Linked DNA regions of Homo sapiens: regions 1, 2, 3 and 5 are each linked to region 4. Evidence: fine-mapped expression QTL. A gene starts in region 4. Each other region holds a variant in brackets. All regions are shown on one strand. Distances are between the middles of the regions.

Region 1 (5,107 bases), 120 kb after region 4:
AACACTTACTATTTCTATACTGTAAATGGCAACAAGATTTTCCCTACCTCAACCTGACTTTGAGCAGGAGCTGTTGCTGGCTAAGCAGCCTGAACAATTCACATGCTCAGACGCTTGTGCTTTTTTCACATGGCCCCTCCAGGACACCTCTGCACTGGGCTGCAGCTGCAGGGAAGGCCGAATGTGTCCAGTCACTGCTGGAGTTGGGAATGGACAGCAACCTGCGGGACATCAATGAGAGCACGCCCTTGGCCTATGCCCTGTACTGCGGTCACACGGCGTGTGTCAAACTCCTCTCCCAAGAGAGCAGGTGAGTACAACAGGAGCCAGTTATTTTTCTATTCTTCTCAACTATTTATAAATTTGGATGAAATGTTTTAAATTGCCAAGGTGCAAACCAATAATAATATTATTATACTTTTATAATATAATTAATGTTACATAGTATTAAAGACATTAAATGATTCTATAATTAACGTTTGCCATTATCTAACACAGAATAAAGTGCTCTTGGAGCAAAATGATAGTAGTGAATCCAAATCCATCAGCCTAATATTCACTGAACTTGAATCTCTTCTTTCCTTTTCTCTCTTTCCTCTTCCCTTTTTGGCAAATCCTCTGAATCCCTCTTTTGCCTAATTTGATGAGTCTCAAACTTTCGTTCTCGGGACCCTTTTACACTCTCAAAAATTATTAAGGGCCCCCAGATAACTTTAGTTTATGAGAGTCAAACCCGTCAATATTTATGGCATTAGAAATTAAAACCGAGCGGCCAGGTGCGGTGGCTCATGCCTGTAATCCCAGCACTTTGGGAGGCTGAGGCAGGTGGATCACCTGAGGTCAGGAGTTCGAGACCAGCCTGGCCAACATGGTGAAATCCCACCTCTACTAAAAATACAAAAATTAGCCAGGCATGGTGGTGGGTGCCTGTAATCTCAGCTACTTGGGAGGCTGAGGCAAGAGAATAGCTTGAACCTGGGCGATGGAGTTTGCAGTGACCCGAGATCACTCCATTGCACTCCAGCCTGGGTGACAGAGTGAGACTCCGTCTCAAAAAAAAATTAATTAATTAATTAAAATGAGAAATTTTTAATAAAATATGCATTGTTATCCATTTAAATTAATAATAAACATTACATTTACATGAGAACATAAATAGCATATTTTAATTAAAAATAAAATGTTTTATTTAATATTTCTATTTCCCAAAACAAAAATATTGTCATGAGAAGAGCAGCATTGTTTTATATTTTTGGCAACTCTCTTTGGTAGCTTAATACAAGCTTAATAGAATACAGCTGCGGGCTGGGCATGGTGGCTCACACCTGTAATCCTAGCACTTTGGGAAGTTGAGGCGGGTAGATCACCTGAGGTCAGAAGTTCAGCTAGACCAGCCTGGCCAACATGGTAAAACCCCATCTCTACCAAAAACAGAAAAACTAGCCAGATGTGGTGGTGCGTGCCTGTAACCCCAGCTACTGGGGAAGCTGAGGCAGGAGAATCGCTTGAGCCTGGGAGGTGGAGGTTGCAGTAAGCCGAGACAGTGCCACTGCACTCCAGCCTGGATGACAGAGCAAGACCGTCTCAAAAAAAAAAAAAAATAGAATAAAGTGGGTTCCACATCTACTCTTTGCATTCTCTCTGTTGCGATGTAATGTGTTTTGTTTTTTGGTTTGGGGGTTTGCTTATTTATTTATTTATTTATTTATTATTATTATTATTTTTAGAACCAGAGTCTCACTTGTCATCCAGGCTGGTGTGCAGTGGCATAATCATGGCTTACTGCAACCTTGAACTCTTGGGCTCAAACGATCCCCTCACCTCAACCTCCTGAGTAGCTGGGACTTTAGGCATGTGCCACCATGCCCAGCTGGGTTTTCTTGTTTTTTGGTTTTTTATTTTTTTGTAGAGATGGCCTCACTATGCTACCCAGGCTGGTCTCAAACTCCTGGCCTCAAGCAGTCCTCCCACCTTAGCCTCCTGAAGTGCTGGGATTAGAAGTGTGAGCCATCATACCCAGCCACAGTATCATGTTTTGATTGATGTATATAAAAACGATCCAGCCTTATATAAATACGTAGTTGGAAAAGGCAGG[T/G]GTATCTCAATAGGCTTTTCAGATAATTGTGTGTATTTTTCTTTGATACGATACCAAAACTTAACAAGCAGCAGTTTCTTAAAGGTTAATTGCAATGTGGATTCTCACCATATCAATGAATTTTTTGTACTCTGTCACATTAGAATACATTACTATACCTTATACTTTAAATGGGTCTTATACACATGCGTGATTTTATTAACACCTTGCATTGGTCATTTGGAAAATATTGGTTCACTTAATTATAAAGATCTTCCAGATGACACATTTCATTATACAATATCAAAAAGTCACATTTGTTAACATCACCACCAATCTATTGGACAAGCTTTATATACTGAGATGGTGTCAAGCTTACAATGTGAATATAAGTTTTCCAAAATTCTAGTTTTTGCTTGAAAGCTAGACTTTTGTCATTGGCTACAATAACTGTCAGTTATTTATCTTGAAATGAAATATTCACTGTATTCGTTTTATTTTATTTATTTGTTTATTTATTTTGAGATGGAGTTTCGCTCTTGTTGCCCAGGCTGGAGTACAATGGCACGATCTCGGCTCACCGAAACCTCTGCCTCCCAGGTTCAAGTGATTCTCCTGTCTCGGCCTCCAGAGTGGCTGGGATTACAGGCATGTGCTACTACCCCTGGCTAATTTTGTATTTTTAGTAGAGACAGGTTTTCTCCATGTTGGTCAGGCTAGTCTCTAATTCCCAACCTCAGGTAATCCACCCGCCTCGGCCTCCCAAAGTGCTGGGATTACAGGCGTGAGCCACCACGCCTGGCCCACTTTATTCATTTTAATATATTTTTATTGTATATATATATATATATATATATATATATAGTATACATATTTTGATATAAATATACCTAGTCAGATGGGTCGAGCGCAGTGACTCACGCCTGTAACCTCCACACTTTGGGAAGCCAAGGTGGGTGGATCACTTGAGCCCAGGAGTTCAAGACTAGCCTAGCCAAGATGGCAAAACCCCATCTCTACTGAAAATACCAAAATTAGCTGGGCGTGGTGGCATGCACCTGTAATCCCAGACACTTGGGAGGCTGAAGCACGAGAAATACTTGAACTCAACTGCAACTTTGTACCCTTCGACCTACACCTCCCATTCCCCCACCTCACCCTCACTTCTGGTAATCACTGTTTTACTCTCTGTTTCTGTGTATTTCACTTTATTTATTTTGCAGAAATTTCTGCAAATACTTAGCTCTACATAACCACAGTTTGTCTGCAAGGCATAAAAATGGTGTTCCGTGAAAAAAGTGTCCGGTTCAGCCCGCGACTCAAACAATTGCACAGCTGCTTTACCCCAAGACAATCATCACACCTCCGTATATAGTAGAATTGCTTACGAGTGCTTCTTATTTTGTCAAACAAGTGTACTCAAGTTAATATTTAATCAAATTAATAACTTGTACTCCCTAAACAAGGACATTATTAAGTTAAAGGACTTTTTTTTTCTGCAAGTACATTGATGCCACTATTGTCCTGATTTGTACTGAGGCAGCCACCATTTTACCCACCACCTCTATTGCACCATCGATGCAAGGCAGCACAGTGAAAAAGACAAATAACGTTGTGATGTTATTATGAATAGAGTTTAATGCCATAAACCCCTTAAAAAGTCGGGGATCCCTCTCCAAGGGTTCAGTGGACCCCATTTTGAGACCCAGAGGCCTAAAGCACAAGCTGTAACAGGAGGAGGAGATGGCTTACACAAGATGCTGCAATAGCATCAATTCACACAGACATATTCTTTATAGGGAAACTTGAGCGTCGGAAGTGCCCTGGGGCTCTCTCTCTGGTGGTATTAGGAGTCTAGAATTCAGTATTTCAAAAAGCCCATTGGAAGGTGAAAGAATAAAGATAAGACTACATCATGGAATAAAAATTCAAAGGATGCACTGTGTGACCTGTAGAGAAAACATTCATTATATGCATCCAAAATAAGTGGTGATGTTTTTCAAATTGCAGATTGCGATATCTCACTCCAGAAAGTAGTGTTGCAATCTGACTCAGGGGCACACACACGGGTCAGGTTTCATCGTTAATTCATACCGCAGAAAGCATTAAGTCAATTGGAGCCTCAAAAGAGAATCACACAGAATTTTCTAAGGAACACAAACAGAATCTTGCCTCAGGGAACCTCTCGACAACTGCTGGCCTTTTTCCTTTATAATTTGCCTGCGCATTGGGCATTGCTCACTTTCTTCTGCAGCCACGCCCGACCTTGGTCATGCACTCCTCCTCTTCCCTCGCTGGAGCCCAGACTAAAGCTTCTTTCCTTGGTTGTTTTTTTTTTTTTTTTTTGCTAGAGATGAGATCCTGCCATGTTGCCCAGGCTGGTCTCAAACTCTTGACATCAAGTGATCCTCCTGCCTCAGCCTCCCAAAGTTCTGGAATTATAGGCATTAGCCACCGTACCTGTTCTTCAGCATACTTTTTTTAAAAGTACTTTTCGATAGGAAAGTTTTAGTTTAAAATGGGGAGGGGTCTCTGAGGGGGATAATGTCAGTCGGTCAGCACTCGGTCCAGGTTTTCTAGGATCTCTGTCAGAGAAAGCCTAAAACCACATTCCCCCCACCTCAGCAACCTCCTCCATCCTTCTGCTCATTGAAGCCTGAACTCAAACCCTTAGGCTTCATCTCTGACTTCAACTTGCGTGCCTACTGACTGTCCTTGAGATGTGAGAACAACACTTTCAGCTAATTTTCAGTTTAGTTAACCTCTTGTTGAAAACAGATGATCTAGGTGTAAATTTTGAAAGGATATCCCCTGAAGGAGCAAGAAAAATCTAAGAAACGTCCTCCTTGGGCAAAGACTGCCCATGGTAAAGAGCCTCTTCTGGGCGGGATTGCCAGGGGTACTGTGAGTTCTTCACACTGCCTTTAACTTGAGAAGGCTTTGGAGGTATCTAGGAAGGATCTCAGAAAACCTGATGAAGCATGTGGAATAGGGGGTCGGTATTTCGGTGAGTGATGTCTCTACTTCCCATAC
Region 2 (5,107 bases), 100 kb before region 4:
CATGTCCCGCCAAAAGATATGCTAAAGTCCTAACCCCGGTACCTCAGAATGTGACTTTATTTAGAAGTAGGATTATTGCAGATTCAATTACTTAAGATGATGTCACACTAAAGTATGGTGGGCTCTTTTTCCAATACGAGTGGTGGAAGAAGGAGGAGATTGAGAAGACGACGATGAAGAACAGACGAAGAAGGAGAAGGAGGAGAAGGAGTAGAAGAAGAAGGAGGAGAAGGAGTAGAAGAGGAAGAAGAAGAAGAAGGAAAAGAAGAACAAGAGGAGGAGGACGAGGAGGGGAGGAGAAAGGAGAAGAAGAGGAGGAGGAAGAAGAAGAGGAAGAAGAAGGAGGAGGAGGAGGAAGAGGAAGAAGACAAGGAGGAGGAAGAAGAAGAAGAAGACAGAAGGAGGAGGAGGAGGACAAAGGGGAGGAAGAGGAGAAGGAGCAGGAGGAGGAGGGGGAGGGGGAGGAGGAACAGAAAGGAGGAGGAGAAGGAGAAGGAGGAGAAGGAGAGAAACAAAGACAAAGGCAGGAAATTGAAGTGATTCATCTACAAGCCAAGGAATACCAAGGACTGCCATCCATCACCAGAAGCTGGGAAACAGACATGGAACAGATTCTTCTTCAGAGCTCTCAAAAAGAACTAGCCCTGCTAGCACTTTCATTTCAGATTTGTAGCACCCAGAAATGTGAGAGAATAAATTTCTGTTGTTTTAAGCCTCCCAACTTGGAGTATTTAGTTACGACAACCCTGGGAAACTAGTACATATTCTCATACCCTTGAGTTGAGAAAAATTGCACACATGCTGTCTCTCTCTCTCTCTCTCTCTGTCCTCTCCTCTCCCTTATTGGCAAGTGGAGCTTAGAGCATAGGAACAACTCTCTCCAAACTGCCCTCTTCACAAAATCCAATCTCTACCTTCCAGCCTTTTTTGATACTTTTAATCAGATTGAAAGGATATACGAATTATAGATCCAGTGGTCTTGAACAGATAAGAATTCAAGCACAGGTTGATTTGGGAGAAGACATCAGTGGGAAAAGAAGAAGTAAAATGAAAGAGAAGACAATAAAGGGTGTGTTATCAGGCCAGCTCCTACTTGGGGTGACTGGAGCTTAATCTCTTAGGGAAGCTCTGGGAAAGAGTGTAAAACATAAATCAGAGTTATCTCAACCCATCTGAGGGTGAGGGAACTGAGGTATTTATACATCAACTCTTTCTGTCATTGGTTGAGAGCTGCTACCTTGGGGAGTGGGATAGAACCATTGGTGTGCTGGTAAATGTTTAACAACCATAACAGGGCACTTTTCATGAGGCCTCTCAGATAATCTGTACCTGAGGGGCACCCTCTGGCACTTTTGTCGTGGGAGCAGAGTAGCCTTCTGCAAGGGTATGTAGATACTGGTGAGGGCTAGAGCCAGTGGTGTGCTGGTAAATATTTAACAAACAGCTTTCTGGCTGGGGAGGTGGGGGAAGACTATCAATATATTTTTAAGAAATTAAAAATATATTAAAAGTATTTATACAAAAGTTTATTATATTTTCTAATATAAAGGTTCTGTATCACATAATTTATAAATAATAATAAGATATATAAAGCTCTTTATTATAAATTGGATAAAGCCAATTGATGTTCACAGAATACTTCCATTGCTTTTTTGCTGAGTTCTTGTTTCTGTAGCCAACCAATGATGAATGCGTATAGTTTTGATAGGAATGTTGGTTGATATTTTTATTATGTTAACAAAGTGAAACTGTGAAGATGTGTTGTGGGCATTCATTAGGGAATGATGTCTTTGCTGAATTAGATAATACTTATGGAATAACTATGGAAGAATTTTCCTCAAAGTTTTTGTGCTATTCACAATGTAATAGCTACAGACATACTTTGATTTTAATCTGCCTTACTAAATAATGATAAGGTTCAGTGCTGTAAGCCTGTAAATTTTCCAAAAATTAACCTGTAAGTTCAATGCAATTCTGATGAAAGAAGCAGGAGAATATATAATGAAACTAAACAATTCTAAAATTCATTTGGAAGTTTAAATGTTCAAGAATAGACAAAACAACGTTCAAAAAAGAGAACACTAAGAAGGAGGCTAGTCCTGACATATAAATCTAAATCATTGAGACAGTCTGGCACTGACATAGGCATATGGATCAGTAGATTAGAAAA[C/AC]TAAATAGAGACGCATAAAGCACAAGTTATGTGATTTGTATGTGATCCAGGTGGCATTACAAACCAGTGAGAAAATGGTACAAGTGACTGTCATATAGAAAAAAAGTGAAGTTATGTTCCTACTTCATAATATTCTAAAAAATAAGTTTTATATGGTTTGGATTTGGTCCCTGTGCAAATCTCATGTCAAATTGTAATCCCTAATCTTGAAGGAGGGGCCAAGTGGGAGGTGACCGGGTCATGGGGGTGGATTTCCCTCTTGCTGTTCTTCTGATAGTGAGTGAGTTCTCATGAGATCTGGTTGTTTAAAAGTGTGTAGCACCTTTCTCTCCTCTTCCTCCTGTTCCAGCCATGTAAGATGTGCCTGCTTCCCCTTCACCTTCTGCCATGATTGAAAGTTTCCTGAGGCCTCCCCAGCTACGCTTCGTATACAGCCTGCAGAACCGTGAGCCAACTAAACCTCTTTTCTTTATAAATAAACCAGTCTGAGGTACCTCTTTATAGCAATGTAAGAACAAACTAATACAGAAAATTGGTACCTAGGAATGGGGCATTGCTATAGATACCAGAAAATGTGGAAGCAGCTTTGGAACTGGGTAACAGGCAGAGAGGTTGGGACAGTTTGGGGGGGCTCAGAAGAAGACAGGGAGAGGAAGGAAAGTTTGGAACTTCCTAGAGACTTGCTGAATGGTTTTTACCAAAATGCTGATAGTAATATGGACAGAGATGGCCAGGCTGAGGAGGACTCAGGTGGAGATGATGAACTTATTGGGAACTGGAGAAAGGGTAACTTTTGTTATGTGTTAGCAAAGAACTGGGCAGCATTGTGCCCCTGCTCTAGAGATCTGTGGGAAAGCCTGGATGTTCAGGCAGAAGTCTGCTACAGAGGTGGGGCCCTCAAGGAGAACCTCTACTAGGCCAGTGCAGAGGGAAAATGTGGGGTTGGAGCCCACACACAGAGTCCCCACTGAGGCACTGCCCACTGGAGTTGTGAGAAGAGGGCCACTGTCCTCCAGACTCTAGAATGGTAGATCCACTGATAGCTTGTGCTGTGCATCTGGAAAAGCCACAGGCACACAACACCAACCTTTGAGAGCAGCTATGGGGGCCAAGCCCTGCAGAGCCACAGAGGCAGAGCTGCCCAAGTCTGTGGGAGCCCACTCCTTGCATCAGTATGGCCTGGGTGTGAGGCACAGAGTCAAAGGAGATTGATTTAGAACTTTAAGATTTAATGACTGCCCTGCTGGGCTTCAGACTTGTATGGGGCCTGCAGCCCCTTTCCTTTGGCCAATTTCTCCCATTTGGGATGAAAGGATTTACCCAATTCCTATACCCCTATTGCATCTTGGAAGTAACTAACTTGTTTTTTTATTTTACAGGCTCATAGGCAGAAGGGACTTGCCTTGTCTCAGATGAGACTTTGTTTTCGTTTTTGTTTGCTTTTTTGGTTTTCTTTTGAGAAGGAGTCTCACTCTGTCACCTAGGCTGGAGTGCAGTGGCATGATCTCAGCTCACTGCAACCTCCATCTCCTGGGTTCAAGCAATTCTCCCTGCCTCAGCCTCCTGAGTAGCTGGGATTACAGGTGCCCACCATCATGCCTGTCTAATTTTTATATTTTTAGTAGAGACGAGGTTTTGCCATGTTGGCCAGGGTGGTCTTGAACTCCTGACCTTAGGTGATCTGCCCACATCGGCCTCCCATAGTGCTGGGATTACAGGTTTTAGCCACCATGCCCAACCTCAGATGGACTTTTGAGTTAATGCTGAAATGAGTTAAGACCTGGGGAACTGTTGAGAAGGGATTATTGTATTTTGCAATGTGAGTAGAACATGAGATTTGGGAGGGGCCAGGGGTAGAATAATATGGTTTGGATTTGTGTCCCCATCCAAATCCCATGTCAAATTGTAATCCCCAATCTTGGAGGAGGGGCCTGCTGTGAAGTAATTGGATTTTGGGGTCAGATTTTCTCCTTGCTGTTCTCATGATAGTGAGTGAATTCTCATGACACCTGGTTGTTTAAAAGTGTGTAACACCTCCCCCTTGTCTTCTCTTTCTCCCGCTCCAGCCATGTAAGATGTGCCTCCTTCCCCTTTGCCTTCTGCCATAACTGTATGTTTTCTGAGGCCTCCTCAGCCATGTTTCCTGTACAGCCTGCAGAACCATGAGCCAATTAAACCTCTTTTCTTTATAAATTATCCAGTCTCAGGTAGTTCTTTATAGCAATCCAAGAACAGACTAATACAAAGTTCTGAATAAATTAAAGATCAAATGTGAAAAATAGGACTTAAAGACAGTGTATACATTTAATAGGAAAATCTTCATGAATTGAAGGTAGGGAATGATTTCTTAGACAAGACAAAAAAAGTATGACTTATAAAAAACAGGTTTGGTAAATCTTTAAGCTTTTGATAAAACTTTAATTGAAATTTTTGATAAAAATTTAATTAAAATGTAGAGCTTCTCTCCCTCAAAATACATCATTTTTAAAGGACAATTTACAGACTTACAGAAAATATTTGAACCATAAGTGACAGACTGAGGATTAGTATTCACAAATGTAAAGGACCACCGAAGTTGTAACAAACATGGGTGGAGACTATGAACAGGAAACTCACTGAAGTGGAAATCTAAATGACCAACAATCATACAAAAATATTATCGGCTTCACATGTAATAAGGGAAATGTGAGTAAAATAATAATGAAATACTACTTTACACACTTTGGATTGGCAAAGACTTTAAAGTCCAACAGTATCAACAATTGGCCAAGATGTGGGAAATGGAAAGGAGCACACACTGCTTTGGTGAGTGTAAATTAACACACTCATGACTGGGAGTGGTGACTCACACCTTTAATCCCAACACTTTGAGAGGATGAGGTGGGAGGATTGCTTGAATTCAGGAGTTTGAGACCAGCCTGGGCAATGTGGTGAGAC
Region 3 (5,107 bases), 130 kb after region 4:
CTCCACAAAGCACTGAAGCACTTGGCTGGTGGCATGGGTAGTGTTTGCATTTTTTTCTGCAGAAGGATCAGGAAGGGAACACAGTGGTCTGCCACCTTTTGACACTTCAGGGCCTCAACCCATCCTGTTTTCCAGAGTTAGGCCTGTCCCGGCCAAACGAATACCTTCTGTTATGAAAATCATGTGAAAATCTGAAAATCTTGTTCTTTTTCCGTTCCAAAGACAGCCTTGGCCTGTCTCTTTTACATCAGTTAGGATGGGGTTCAGCTTCCTGTAAAAGAAACCCAAAGTCACAGGGGCTTGAACAACATAGAAGTTTATTGCTATCACGGCCAGGTGCAGTGGCTCAGGCTTGTAATCCCAGCACTTTGAGAGGCCAAGGGAGGTGGATTGCTTGAGCTCAGGAGTTCAAGACCAGCCTGGGCAACGTGGTTAAGCTTCGTCTCTACAAAAAATACAAAAAAAATTAGCCAGGAGTAGTGGTACTTGCCTGTGGTCTCAGCTACTTGGGGGGCTGAGACGGGAGGATCACTTGAGCCTGGGAGGCAGAGGTTGCAGTGAGCCAAGATCGCACCACTGCACCCCAGACTTGGTGACAAAGTGAGGCCCTGTCTCAAAAAAAAAAAAAAAGTTTATTGCTATCACATGAAAGAAGTCTGAAGTAGGCAGTTCCCAGACATTTGGTGGCTCCACAATCATAAGCAACATAGGCTCTTTCCATCTATGTGCCCCGTCACCTAATGTATGGCTTCTCTCCTCGAGGGGCTGATGGAGCAGGAGGAAGGAAGTAGAGAGGGGGAAAAATGCGTGTCCCCATGTGAATCAGCTCCCATTAAGAACTCATCTGGCTTAAGTGCCACACTTCCGCTTGCATCTCATTGGCCTCTAAACTTTGGTCATATATTCACAGCTATCAACAAGGAGTCTTTTAGCTGGCCACGTTGCTATCCCTCCAAAATTGGATTTCTGTTTCTAAGTGAGGGAGGAGATATTAGATGGAGAGTTAGTACATTCTGACACATGTGCCACCCAAAAATTTCCATCTTATTTGAAATAAAAAGAAATTCAATAAACGTGGTTTGGGGATTTGCTCACTTACACAATGAAATAACTAGAAAAATCCTGGGACAGCAGAATAGCAGAAAGGGGAAGGTGAATTTCTCCAATGGAATCTGCCTATATCAAATATTTTTTTCAACCAATTTTTCTGAGTGCTGATTATAACTAGGAGCCATTCTAGGCAACTGAGTCATGATAAGATAAATTTCCCAAGTGTTTTCAGCCTATAAATCAGCTTTAAGGGGTATAGATTTACTAAAATGCTTCTGCAACTGACTTTAAATTGACTTTCTTCTCATGTTTAGATACAGTCATAGGGTTTCAAAAATGGAAAGGAGCTTAGTCATTTGATCAAACATTAAATGATTGCTGAGTGTTTATCACAGTTGATTTATCAAAAGAGAGTGAGGGATTTTTTTTTTTTTTTTTTTTTAGAGAGAGATAGGATCTGTCACCCAGGCTGGAGTACTGTGGCTTGATCATAGCTCACTTCAGCCTCAAACTCCTGGGCTTAAGCAATCCTCCCATCTCAACCTCCCATGTAACTGGAACTACAGACACATCTCCTCCTCTGGCTAATTTTTTTGTCATCATTTTTTTGTAGAGACAAGGGTCTCACTTTGTTACCCAGACTAGTCTAGAACCCCTGGCCTCAAGCAATCCTCCCATCTTGGCCTCCCAAAATGCTGGCATTATAGATATGAGCCACTAAGGCTGGGTGTGGTGGCTCATGCCTGTAATCCCAGCACTTTGGGAGGCCAAGGTAGGCGGATCACCTGAGGTCAGGAGTTCGAGACCAGCCTGGCCAACATAGTGAAACCCCATCTCTACTAAAAATACAAAAATACAAAAATTAGCCAGGTGTGGTGGCGGGCGCCTGTAGTCCCAGCTACTGTGGAGGCTGAGGTGGGAGAATCGCTTGAACTCAGGAGGCAGAGGTTGCAGTGAGCCGAGATCGCACCTGCACTCCAGCCTGGGCGACAGAGCAAGACTATGTCTCAAAAAAAAAAAAAAAAAAAAAAAGCTTTCCTAGCCTTACGGATTTTATTTTTGTGATCATTTTTAACAATAATTGTTTTGAGATC[A/G]CTGAGGCTTCTGCACTACACTGAAGTGGGTGTTGTCGTTGTTGTTAGTCTAGGAGAGTTGAAACTTTATGTGAAAGTTTAATGTGGTAAAGCAGTTGGATAAATCATCCCACTATAGCACTGACTTGAACTTGGATTGTCCCTTTATCTTTGGATTTCCTCCTTTCCTGCCCTGGGTTTGGTAGAAATAATATGAGTTAGTAGTGCTGCTGTTAAAATTCCAGGCAGCCACTATCCAATGCTTACATCAGCAGCCCTGAACATTTAGCTGTAATGATTATTGCTTAACATTTATTGAGACCTGTCAGAGGTTGGATGCAGCAAGATGGGGGATGAAGCACTTATCCTAGAGACTTGGAATTTGGAGCACGTCAGCTTAATTCATTGCAGGCAGCTTTCAGAGAAAATGGAACAGAAAGCTCTGTGGTATTGTCTGCTAGCCTGGTTATTTATAAGCCGTCACAAGAAAAGTAAAAAAGTGTGCATTTCCTTTCTCCTGCAAAAGAGAGCTTCCTTCTCTAGAATTTTCTAGACTATCTCAGCCAACAATGCACTCTTCTGGCTGGTTAGGTCTGATCCTGTGATCCTTCTGTCTAAACCCATCAAACGTTTTGCATCTTTTCAGGACAAAGGCCAGGGTTCTAAACTGGGCAAACAAAGCCCTCACGGCATGGTCAGACCTCACGGCATGGTCATGCTCAGCTTCTGCACCGCCCATCTCAAATCCCCACCCCTACCTCTTCAGAAGTTCCTTGAATATGTCTCAGTTTCTTGACAATTTCATACCTTTCCATTCTATGACATCTTGGCCCTTGTTATTATTTTGGGTTCTCTCCACTGTGTGCTTGACCGATTCCTACAATCTTTTAAGAACCAGCTCAAAACTCACCTTCTATAATATGTGAAGGTCACCCTGATCTCTGTAGGAAATATGGCTCTTTCTTAGGACTGCTAATAAGAACAGCTCCACCTGGCCGGGCACGGTGGCTCACGCCTGTAATCCCAACACTTTGGGAGGCTGAGACGGGTGGATCACCTGAGGTCAGGAGTTCAAGATCAGCCTGGCCAACATGGTGAAACCCCATCTCTACTAAAAATACAAAAATTAGCCTGGTGTGGTGGCGCACGCCTGTAGTTCCAGCTACTCAGGAGGCTGAGGCAGGAGAATTGCTGGAACCCGGGAGGCAGAGGTTGCCGTGAGCCACGATGGCACTACTGCATTCCATCCTGAGAAACAGAGTGAGACACTGTCTCCAAAAAAAAAAAAAAAAAAGAATAGCTCCACCTTGCTGACCTACACACCTACACACTTCACTTTCCACAACATTGCAGGAGAGATTTTATCCTCTTTATAACTGAAGAAATTGAGACAGAGAGGTTAGCTCATCTGCCTAAGGTCACAGAGCTAGCTAGGAAGTGGCAGAGGAGATACTGGAACAAGGTCTATGGGATCCCAGAAAACCTCAACTTCTCTGGACCATTCCTTCCTCTGCAATGCCCTCACAAACTCTATCACAGCACTACTCATGGAGCTTCAAAACCATATGTTTACCTGTCTTTCCTCCCACATCAATTGCAATCCCCTCCTGAACGCCTTGCTTTCTCCTCTTTGTACTCTAGGGTCTGGAATATGATGAGTGCTCAATGGATGATTGCTGAATTATCTATTTATTATTGTTATTATCATTATTATTATTATTAATCCTGCAGTCACCTCGGGTTCCATCATGTAACTGTGAAAACATTTCCTATCCTTTTTTTCTAGGACAGTGGTCCTTGACCCTGTCCCCAAAGCTGAACACTCCCTGGAGTTGCCTGCAGCACCAGACAGCTTTGGGCTATGCACGGCTCCACCCTGTCCCTGAAAACTGAGCAAAATGCCAACATGGAATAAAGTTTAACTCCCCTTCATCTCCGAGTCACTGCTGTAGCCCTTCTTTGCCCACTGCTCCCATCTGCTTAGAGGAGGCAGAATAATAGAAGTTACAGGGTCAGCCCTATAGGGTTGAAGTCTAGGCTGTGTCCCTTCCTAGCGTGTGACTTGAGCACTTTTAGAACTCCTCCAAGTCACAAGGTCCTCATTTGTAAAATGAGGATGATAATAGAATGTATCTCACAAGAAAAAGTGATTGTCAGAGTTAAATAAGATTATGCCTACAGCATTTATCCCTATTCCTGACAAAAGTAAGTGTTCCATAAACATAACTCAAAATTATTATCTCGTTGGTTTTACAAATTTCTGCTCAAGTGTTCATGGATAAATAGTTGTTCGCTAATATAAATTTTCATGTTAATTCTACACAGGAATATTTTCTCTGTAAATAATGGCTCCTGAAGTTATTTGATGTTCAGTGTTCAAAAGGATAAAATATAATGGCAAAATATCCACCAGGGAGACTGGAGATTTAATCTCCATCAACTAACATTGCTGAGGTGGCCGCTTCTGCACAGACCATCCACCATGAGATTCACTTAAACAGATGCAAGTTGTTCTTGGCTAATCCTTTTGTTTTTTCTTTTTTTCTTATGCTATTTTGCTCCAACAGAAGACCCTTAAAGTCTAGGAGCATTGCTATAGCAATTCTGGTTCTTTCTTACTAGACTGATAGGCAAAAGATCAAATAATCTTTTTTTGTTAAGGTCTTTTGAGTACTTTACCCTATAAGCTAAATGCTTTACCCTTGTTCTCCAGTTTAATCCTCATGACAAGTGGAAAAGATATACAATTATTTTCACCATTTTGTATATGAAAAAATTGAGGTGTTGAGAGGTAATATCATTTGCCCAATGTCATATAACTGAAAAGTGGGGAAGCAGGGAATCAAGCCTAATTCTGTTTGACCCCAGAGCCCAACCAAGCTCCTATTCATGACACCATCCAGTCAATTTTAAAATGGATTTAAATCACATTTGTGTGTTCCCTTCTATTTTCAGGTATCGAACATCCGTATCTTAAAGTCAGT
Region 4 (5,107 bases):
TTTAGGTTTCCCAATTCAATGACTGCAGTTCTCACTGTCTGCAGAGAAGAGCAATCACAGAACTCTTCAAAGATGCTGGGGTTCCCCTCACAGATTTATTCCTATTCCTCACGGTACTGCTAAAAGTATGTCTTCTAGACCCTCCAGTGTGGGTGAGTAGTTCTTAAATGACAAATCCACTCTGACATTCCAATCTCCCTAAGCCTTTGAATCTCTTCCACATTAAACCAAGGCAAGTCCAGTATTTCCAATTTGCTCACCCTGGGCCACTTTTTGGTCCATGTTTCAACCCACTAACCTGACTGTTAGAACACTTTATAACTGCCTGAGCTGCAACAGTAAATGCAGAATTTCTGCTTAATTAGTTAATATCAATAAATTCAACCTGATCTAACTTTATGTTCCTTTCACCATTATTTCACTCCCTTAGTATCCATTCCCATGTTTCCTGGATTTTTAGGAAGTTCAAGTAATTATTTTGGAATATAATGTACTTCATGGGTCACACTTTGCACCTCACCTTTAGGGGCTGCTGGGACTTGAGTCTAGTTATAGGTCTAGAAGCAGAGGAACAATGGTGGTGGCTCCTGAAGAGAATCAGCATTGTTGTGCACGGCAGCTGCCTCAAGGAAGGCCAATACAGTTTCCTCAGGCAATTCAGAGTCAATCTTCTCAGACTGAGGTGAAAAGGCTGCTACCACTGGAGATGGGGAGGCTGCTTCTACTAGGGATTGGGAGTCCACTTCCACTGGCAAAGAAGACTCCTCAGAGTTTAGATGCTCAGTGTCCCCCAGCTTCATCAGGGTCTTCTCACATGTCTCTATCCAATTTACAGTATCCTCTACTTTCCCAATCAATGTCCTCACTTTAACAGCAGACATCCTGTGAAGCTGGGAGTTTGACTTGCGCTGTAATTCAGGAGTTCAATTTGCATTGTAATTCAGGCAGCTGCAGCATGAGAGCCTGCATTTGATTGCAGCATCCTCAGCCTCATGGCTACAGGAGGTAAGACTCTCCTTCAGGGTACACATACACACCTCCAGGTCATCTATATGGCACCTGAGCTGGGAATTAGAATCCGTGAGCTAATCCTTTTCTTTCATCACTTTGTCCAGTGACATTAGGAGCAACCAGCCATATTCATTAAGTTTCCAAAAATGTTTGAGGGTATCATCTACACAGTCACCCAACTCCTTGCCTGTTGTGTCCAGTGATTAATTAGGAATATTCAGTGCAGCTTTTTGCATATCTCTATTACCACTTCACACCATGGACTATCAATGCTCTCTTTACTCCTAGAAATAAAGCTATTAGAATCCTTAAATTTAATCAGATTTGAGAGCCAATTCCAGAAACCCTAGAACCAATCCTCAAGTACATGGTTTCTTGTTTAGACTAGAAAATTTCAAGGACTACAGAAGTTCTTGTCAGAAAGTTCTTACCCCATGAAGGATGGTTAATTGGGTTCCAATGTTACAATGTCAGTGAGCAGGTTGTCAGCTTGAGCAAGGAAAGTTCTTCAGTGAAGTTTCACTCATGCACTGAAATGTACTGAGCACCTCCTTTGTGCCCCTCTCTGTGCTAGGCTGTAAGGACATGGAGTGGACAAAGCAGACAAAGAAAGAGTAGACAAAGACCCTGCCCTTATGAAATGTACCCTCTTGTGGAGAAATATTTTAATTTGGGTTTCCGTAAAAGCAGACCCTGAGACAATGATTCCAATGCAAGTAACTTATTGAGAAGTGCAGGAAATATCAGTAGGAACGTGGGAAAGTAATACAGGGAGGGAACAGCAGCCCATAAAAAGAACGTTATTAGACCTATTCTCACAGGTGGCAGTGGAGTTTAACCCTGAAGGAGTTTAATCCTGAAAGGGAAATGGCAAACGGAGTAAAACACCATGCCTCAGAATCATCCTATCCAAGGGCAAAGGAAGCTGGTGTTTATTATTAGATTCAACAAGCATCTACTATATGGCTATTTGACTTATCCAAAAATCTGGTTGTGCCTAGAATATAGAACTTTGTTTGAATTTAGTATATCATATTTTTATTACAAATACAAGATAATAGATACTGGTTATTAACAAGCCAAAAATACAGAGATTGATACAGAACAAGTTAGAAATCTCCTACTCTAATCACAGTGGCCTGAGGGAACCAATATTAGCAGTTTAGTACGTATCTTTCTACATCTTTTTCAGTGTTCGTCTGAATATATAAAAATAATGTATACAGTGAGTGGTTTCCGGTTTTATTAAAACACGAACAAATGAAATATATAACTTGTTTATTTCATTTAACAATAGATTAGTGACATGTCACCAGATAAATACACAGATTTATTTATGTCAGATTTTTAAATCTAGAGTACGAATTTACTACCATTTACTTAGCTGCTCCCTGAATGAGGTACATTCGGGTGATTTTTCAGGTTTTACTACATGTAATGCTACAATAAACACCCTTGTGACAGCAGACTGTTTTAATTTTATCACCACAGACACTCGAGCCTTGAAATGTCACCTTTCAAATGACGCCTTTCCCCATCCTCCCTGTCAATTGGAGAACGGAGCTGAAAGGGGAGTGAAGAAGACTGCCAACATGGATAATTACTCCACACAGCACATGGCCAGCAGCCTCCTGCTACAATATTTACATCCTATTCCATTGAGATGGCACTCTCTGCTCACATGACCCAAATGCAGTTCTCACTCCGCCAAAAGCACAGCCGAATGCGAACTGCATTGGCAGCTTTGCACATGCTCTGTCTGGCCCTGTGAATCCTCACTCACCCATTCAGATTTCTGTTGGTGTAAAGCGACATTCCAGCTGCTGAAGCTCCGTGATCTGCTGTGTTTTTCCAGCCCAGATCCAAGGCAGGTGGCCCATACAATTTTACTATCTTTTTGGAGTTTGAGTAATTGTGTTTATTGATTTGGGGGTGGAGGGTGTATTATGCCCATGTACAGCTGATGAATGAGGCCATAGAGTAACTCTTTTCCTAGCAGGTATTTACAGGAATAGCATTTACCTATTTTCATCACCTTGCCTTGACAACAACCTGCAGCTCTGATGCACATTTAATCCTGAAACAGAGGTCTTGGCAAACGATGCTGCCTCTGACTGTCATGTTGACAGTAAGGTTTGAGATGGTGTTTTCTCCTCTCTAGAGACCTGGATGCTTTTTGCCATTCTGATGGTAAATGATGAGACAGGCTACCATGGATTTCAGCACCCCTTCTGTGTTTGATCAGCAAAGAGGTAAAATGCTGCTTTAACACATTCTTTGGTTGTTAGCATCCTTAGTCTCATGGTATGGATTTACAGTTGTAAGGAGAGAAAGAGAAGTGTGTGTGTGTGTGTGTGTGTGTTCATGTGCGTGGGTGTGCATGAGTATTTGCTATGTAGGATGTGGAAAGAGGATTTCACCTAGAAAACAAACCTGTTCAAAATGTTCACTTCTAGTTTGATAAGCATCTGAAACAGAAAAATAAGCTTATGATCTGTTGTATAAGCTTATGATCTTGTTGAAGTATTCCTACCTTCAAATTTTAAAAACTGGATTTCAAGCACACCAACTATTTCAGATAGTGTCATCTTTATTCTGTTTTTTCCAAATCTTTTTTAAAAATTAGGGTAAGCAATGTAAGAACACATCACATTTTTTTTGTCATTCGATTAGCCCAGTATCTCATTGCTGTATCTTCGTAAGCATTTTTTTATTCCTTTCAGGAATAGATGTTGCCTGTATTTATGTCGGGTTGATATGTTATCTCATCCAAGGTTGTGTAATGACATATCCCTATGCTATTATTTGCAATGCCAGGGTATATCTTCCTTACTTATAATTTCTGGAGTGGAGGTAATTTTCCACATCAAAATGTTGCTGTGAGATCAACTTATCCTTATAATATCACATATTTGGCCATGTGGTCTATGTGTATACATTTTGCATATGCAATGTGTTTATATACATCTTCGTGTAATACTTATGTGTAATAGTAAATCTTTTTTTAGTATAAACATGAAATTTCCATTTTATAAACATAATAAATATTTTTTAGAATCTTTTCTTAAATATCTATTATTTAAACCACTTTCTACAGTCTCTGAATATTCTTCAAGATCCTAAGTTCCTTTGGTGATTTTATCTGTTTTGGCTACAACATGAAATGGTGGTTTGAAAAAGCCTCATTAAGAAAATGTACTGCTTCATTCTTTTTTCCCTTTTCCTGCTCTAGGCCATAGCATGTTTATTACCCCTCAAGCTACATCTGGCTTTGTGGGTGAATTATTTTAGCCCAGGGGGTTTCTCCAAAAATAAATTTATATTTAGATTCCTGAGTTAGCTAATGTATATATGTGTATAGTGTGTTCTCCAGGTCTTAGCTCATTTGGAATAGTGTTTGTGTATGTGTATGTGTGTGTGTGTGTGTGTGTGTGTGTGTGTGTGTGTGTGTGTGCGCGCCTTCAGAACGTGCCGGCTCATACCGTGTTTGGATCTGAACAGCATAGAGAAAGGCGTTGTCACAGCTGTGCCCACCACCATCCTCTCCTCCTGGTACATTTTATATCACTGATGGCAGTCAGTAAAAGTGAAAATCTGCTAAGAACCAAAGAGCTCACACTGGCTGAAAAATGATGTTGCTAAGCCACGAAACATACAATGGGTTTATTTTTGAAGACTAATTGGAGGGAGCTGGGACTGACTGAAGAAGAACTAGCTCTTCATAATGAATTTACATGTTCCAGTGCTGTACCTTCTAACAGGATTGAGCCCCAAACATAGTTAAGATACAGAATTACAAGACTGATTTTCTTTTAACACCTTTCATGTGAGCAATTCACAGCAATTCCTCCACCTGGGCCGGATTCTCTCCCATGGAAGTTAACCCTCTCCCTGCCATCTTTATCTCTATTTCTCAATCCTTTCTCTCTTTCTAGAGGTTTTATCATATGATGGAAAGAGCATGGGATTTTAAATCTTATAGACGTAGATCAGAATGGCAGATCATCTACTTCTTAGCTGTGTGACCTTGGCAAGTTACCTAACCTCTCTGGGCCTTAGTTTCCCCAGGAATACAATGAAGGAAATGATGCTTACC
Region 5 (5,107 bases), 57 kb after region 4:
TTGCAATGAATGTATAGATTCATTTTCAGGAAATTGATAGCTCTATTATATTGAGTCTTTTCCTTCATAAACATAGTATCTTCCCATGTTTAGTTCTTCTTTTATGTCACCCAGTAAGTTTTATACTTCTTATCCACATAAGTCTTGCTCTTCTTTGGTTAGATTTATTCCTAAGTACCGTATTTTTGTTGTTGTTGCTTTTGTTTTTTGTTACTTTTCCTATTGCTTTTGTTTAAGGAAGACCTTTTCTTTTATATATGAATTTTACATACAGGAACAATGCTGTACTGTCTTACTTGTTTTATTTTGAGGGTTTTTTTTTTTCTATTTTCTACAAGGACAAATGTACCAACTTAAAATAAATTTTGGAACCCCATTTGGAGATAAATCTGTCATTCCTCCCTAAACCTCAGTTAGAGACACCTCAGGAAAATTATTTTAAACTTAAGAAATATTTGGGCCAGATGCAGTGGCTCACGCCGGTAATCCCCGTACGTTGAGACATTGACGTGGAAGGATTGCTTGAGCCTAGAAGGTCAAGGCTGCAGGGAGCCATGATCACACCACTGCACTCCAGCCTGGGCAACAGAGCAAGATGCCGTCTCAAAAAAAAAAAAAAGAAAGAAAAGATTTGTTCAGTAATCATTTGGTTATGCATTTCAGAATTGCTGTTTAATATCTTCCCGGTACCAGGTACAGTGGTTGGTACCGAGGATTCAGTGATGAGCAGGAGAGATGTGGTTCCTTCCACTTCGAATTATAGCTTAGAAGAGACAAATTTTAAACACGTGATTATGCTCAATCAATACATAATTGTAAAATATTAAAAGAATTACTAGAGAAAAATGAAGGATGATGAAAAATTATAACATGGACATCCAGTTCACAATGGAGGGTCAGGAAGGTGTTCCCTGAAGAAATTTATATGTAAGCTAGGCTCTCAAGATAGATGTAAATTAGCCAGACATAGCATGTAATTTTATGAAAACAATATCTAGGGATTCTGTTTTTGTTTCTTTGTGTGTGTGTTTTTTTTTTGAGATGGAGTCTCACTCTGTCACCCAGGCTGGAGTGCAGTGGCACAATCTCGGCTCACTGCAACCTCCACCTCCCGGGTTCAAGCAATTCTCCTGCCTCAGCCTCCTGAGTAGCTGGGATCATAGGTGCGTGCCACCATGCCCGGCTAATTTTTTTTGAATTTTTAGACAGGGTTTCACCATGTTGGCCAGGCTGTTCTCGAACTCCTGGCCTCAAGAGATCTGCCCACCTCTGCCTCCCAAAGTGCTGGGATTACAGGCAGGAGCCACCACACCCGGCCTATCTAGGGATTCTTTAGCTTTACTTACTGAGCATTTCAGATTCACAGATTGCTTCAATAATTGCCTTTTGCAGCATGTCCTTTTTTTCTCTCAATAGTTATAATTACCACTTGTTGACAGGAAGAAAGGAAGGGAGGAAGGGAAAGGAAGGAAATTTTGCAACTATTTTAAGACATAGCACTTCATTGCTGCTTTTTCCCAGTACAGATGACTGAAAGAGTTTCAGAAGGAAAAAAATTGGAGAGAAATTGAGTTGCCGACTGCAACTCAATTTCTGGTGTCCTAGGGACTGCACTGCAAAGCTCATCACTCCCTCCAGGCAATGTTCAAATTCAAATATTAAAGAAAACTTTGGCAAAAGGGACACTTAGAAGTTAAGACTCAGCCACAACTCTGAACTCGGTGTTCTTTCAGTGAAAACAGAAATCTTGGGATTTACCCTTTCTTGGGGATTTCTCAGGGTCATAGCTTGCAGTTCATCTGGAGAAGAATCACAATCTCCAGTCCAAAGACATCTACACAAGTCTCGACTGGGCAAGGAGTGAATCTGAGGTTTGAGTTCTTCACCTGAAGGAATAAGAAGCACCTGGATCCTGCTTCATGAGGCTGGCTTGTTCCAACAGCCCTGCAAAGTTCATCAAAATGTGTAATTTCATCTCTATTTTTATTCAGAAAGAAAACACATAAAAAACTAAATGCCTTGACCTATATTGATTCTGAAAACAGAGAAGCATTTCAGTACAGGTGGCCACTTTTTCAGCAAGAGTTTGTGCAATCCAAGGCTGGGTACTGTTGCTGCCCCTTAACACCTGCCACCCCCTATAAAAGTGTGCTGAACCCATCTGCCTAGATAGAGCGGCTTTCCAAAGGCACTCCTAGATTCTACATGGTTCAAGCCAAGTCAGGATAAATCTGCCTGTTATGTCTTAAATTATGCTGATCCCTGACACAGTCATAAGCAATTTTTATCATCTACCCAAAATGTTTTACTCAGCCAATTATTGCAAAATTGCAGAAGATTGAAAAGAGCCAGTAAAAAAAATACATAGTTTATAGAGATGTAGCAACAATCAGCTTCATCTCCCTTCAGTCCCATACAAACAGCTGGGTTTGTATTGCAAATAGCAAAATAAATGAACAGGCCAATAAAGCCTGCTCATCAGTTTCATGGGTCACACATGTTTAAAGGCTGTTGAAATGTCTCATTCCAGGATGCACGCCCTTGATGCATGCGGTTTCTGGACGTCAAGCGGACACAGTGAAGCTGCTGTTGAAGATGGGAGCCAATATTAACATGCAGGATGCTTATGGCCGCACAAGTTTATGCCTGGCCACCTACCTGGTACTGACTTGTGCCTGTCACAGGGTGGAAGGAGCAGGGTAGGCGAAGGGTGTCATTATGGGGTCCCAGTTGCAAAGGAGCATTCTTGGATCTATGCAGCTGGCTAAAGGAGCTGGAACTTGAAGCTTTACTCCAATC[A/G]TCTTCAACGTTTATATCCCCACTTAGAGTTGGTTTCATGAATTTGGGCCATTTTGGATCTTCCTAACAATCCTCTAAGATAGAGGTGATATGGCCATTAGGGAAACATTCTTTTCTATCTTAATGGCATCAGAATTTCTCTTGGGATATTTCTGGACACACTTGGTGCTTCTAAAAACAATCTCCCTAAATAACCCCAACAGGGTGGGAATACTGTGAAGATCCAATTAACATCTGTGGGGTAGGATTGGTTGAGTAGAAGCTTGAGGCTAAGGAATGTGGAGAACAACGAGAACTGGGGAAGGTGGTGGGAGGGACTGGAAGATAAAGAACAGGGGAGACAAAGCAGGCTCTTAAAGGGACAACGCCAAGCAGATGACTCAGCCCACAATCAGGGCTCAATTTAACAACTGTGTCATAATACTAGTCCTCACCGGTAGAGATTTCAGTTCAGCATTTCCCAACATTAGAGCAAGCCTGGTTAAGCCTTACTGAAAATCCTCAAGACCCTCTCCTCTCAAACTCTTCCTGCAATCCTTTTGGGAGGTCCTAGGGGTGCCTTGAGTCCATGTCAAACAAGTCCTAACCACCACATGGAGGTCATCCTTTTTCTTCCTCTCCAGAGAGGTACCCAGAAATCTTCACTATGACCACCATTGCTACCAGTGCAGCTTCTTGCATTTGCTATGGCTTGCATTTGCTATTGCTGCCCACTGATGGTGGTGAATTCACTCTGGACCAGCCCCATTGAGGGTGTCCTGCTGAATTAAATCACTTCCCTTTCCCAAACACCACCCCTTTCTGCCATGACCTATCATAGATTGCAATGAAGCATTGCCCAAGTCTCACAGAGATTTCCTTTAGAGCCTACTTTTTCATTTTCTATTTGTGCTCTCTCTCTAGAACTCACATGCAAATCTGGGAAGAAATTTTCAAACTGTGGTCCACAGATCTTTTGTGTCAATATCCCTTGGGGTGCTTGTTTCAAATGCAAATGCCAGGCTGGTCTGATGGTAGAGGGTTATCAGAACTTATTCACATTAGTGTCAAATGCAGGTACCAGGGGTATACCCTAGACCTTCTGAGTCAGATACTCTGGGAGCAGGACTGGGGTAGTTGGTGTTGGGGGAGTCTGCATGTTGAACAAACCTCCTTGGCAATTTTTTTTTTTTTTTTTTTTTTTGAGACAGAGTCTCACTCTGTCACCAGGCTGGAGTGCAGTGGTGCGATCTCAGCTCACTGCAGACTCTGCCTCCCAGGTTCAAGCGATTCTCCTGCCATAGCCTCCCAGGTAGCTGGGACTACAGGCATGCACCACCACACCCAGCTAATTTTTGTATTTTTAGTAGAGACAGGGTTTCACCATGTTGGCCAGGATGGTCTCGATCTCTTGACCTCATGATCTGCCCGCCTCAGCCTCCCAGGCGATTTTTAAAAACTTGCCCATCAAGTTTAAAAGCCACTGGTCTGTGCATATTAGCCGAAGTCCCATATCTCAGACAGACATATGGCTGTCCTCCTAGCCCCCTCCCTTCTAGCACATGCCTTAAGAACTGCTCTTGCTATGGACTTTTCCAGTGTCTGAGCTGAAGAAAAGAGAAAACTGGGATAAGGGGGTAGAGGAAGGGCATAGAAGGGGTTTCTAAAGTTGACTGCCACTAGCAAATAGAATGTAGTGAAAGCAAACTGTCCCCCTTTCAAAGTTCAAAAATTCAAAATTTTACATTTCTTTGACTAGAGAGCTATGCAAGGGACTGGGAAGAAGTACTCCTCTAAATCACGGTGAATAATGATGGACACCCTTGGAGCCTGGAAAGTTGACACCTTTGCAGACAACTCTTTCTAGGAATATATTCTAAGGGCTGCATGAGAAGAGTCTGCCAGCAGGACACCATGTGGTGCCACCTTTTTAACTCTGCCCCCATCTCCCTGTGGCTCCCCAAGGCAGGACCCTCCATTGTTCTGCTGGGGCTCACGGGAAGCAGTTGTCCTGGGGACTGCACTGTGAAGCTTATCCCTCCCTCCTGGCAATGTTCAAATTCAAGAATTAAAGAAAAATGTCGCAAACGGGACACTTAGAAGTTAAGTCTCAGCCACAACTCTGAACTCAGTATACAAAAAAACCTTACCACAGATGTGTCAAACTCAAATAAAATATGTAGAGTTGAGGCCAGGCACGGTGGCTCACGCCTGTAATCCCGCTACTTTGGGAGGCCAAGAGGCTAGAGGATCACCTGAGGTTGGGAGTTTGAGACCAGCCTGACCAACATGGAGAAACCCTGTCTCTACTAAAAATACAAAATTAGTC

The links. PIP is the estimated chance that this variant, and not a neighbour inherited with it, causes the effect. A credible set is the group of variants that fine-mapping cannot tell apart.
Region 1: its variant is the best candidate, but not a certain one, in a credible set for the expression of ANKRD55 in lung (TOPMed, PIP 0.89).
Region 2: its variant is the best candidate, but not a certain one, in a credible set for the expression of ANKRD55 in whole blood (INTERVAL, PIP 0.53).
Region 3: its variant is the best candidate, but not a certain one, in a credible set for the expression of ANKRD55 in whole blood (INTERVAL, PIP 0.88).
Region 5: its variant is the best candidate, but not a certain one, in a credible set for the expression of ANKRD55 in whole blood (INTERVAL, PIP 0.55).

What each region holds. Positions count from the first base shown.
Region 1 is chr5:56,111,818-56,116,924 of GRCh38, reverse strand. ANKRD55 (ankyrin repeat domain 55) reads left to right here. Exons shown (of 12, transcript NM_024669.3): 9 at 143-310. Among named protein-coding and RNA genes, the nearest start is that of ANKRD55, 120 kb to the left of the region's middle. RefSeq lists a silencer at 1-43. The variant T/G (reference allele first, on the strand shown) is at 2,096.
Region 2 is chr5:56,333,370-56,338,476 of GRCh38, reverse strand. All of the region lies in intron 2 of LOC105378977 (a long non-coding RNA gene), which reads right to left. Among named protein-coding and RNA genes, the nearest start is that of ANKRD55, 100 kb to the right of the region's middle. The variant C/AC (reference allele first, on the strand shown) is at 2,171.
Region 3 is chr5:56,103,396-56,108,502 of GRCh38, reverse strand. The region is part of intron 10 of ANKRD55 (ankyrin repeat domain 55); the gene reads left to right. Among named protein-coding and RNA genes, the nearest start is that of IL6ST-DT, 110 kb to the right of the region's middle. The variant A/G (reference allele first, on the strand shown) is at 2,145.
Region 4 is chr5:56,231,012-56,236,118 of GRCh38, reverse strand. It overlaps ANKRD55 (ankyrin repeat domain 55), which reads left to right and starts at 2,789. Exons shown (of 12, transcript NM_024669.3): 1 at 2,789-2,878; 2 at 3,173-3,263. The coding sequence starts at 3,206.
Region 5 is chr5:56,173,706-56,178,812 of GRCh38, reverse strand. It overlaps ANKRD55 (ankyrin repeat domain 55), which reads left to right. Exons shown (of 12, transcript NM_024669.3): 4 at 2,531-2,661. Among named protein-coding and RNA genes, the nearest start is that of ANKRD55, 57 kb to the left of the region's middle. The variant A/G (reference allele first, on the strand shown) is at 2,800.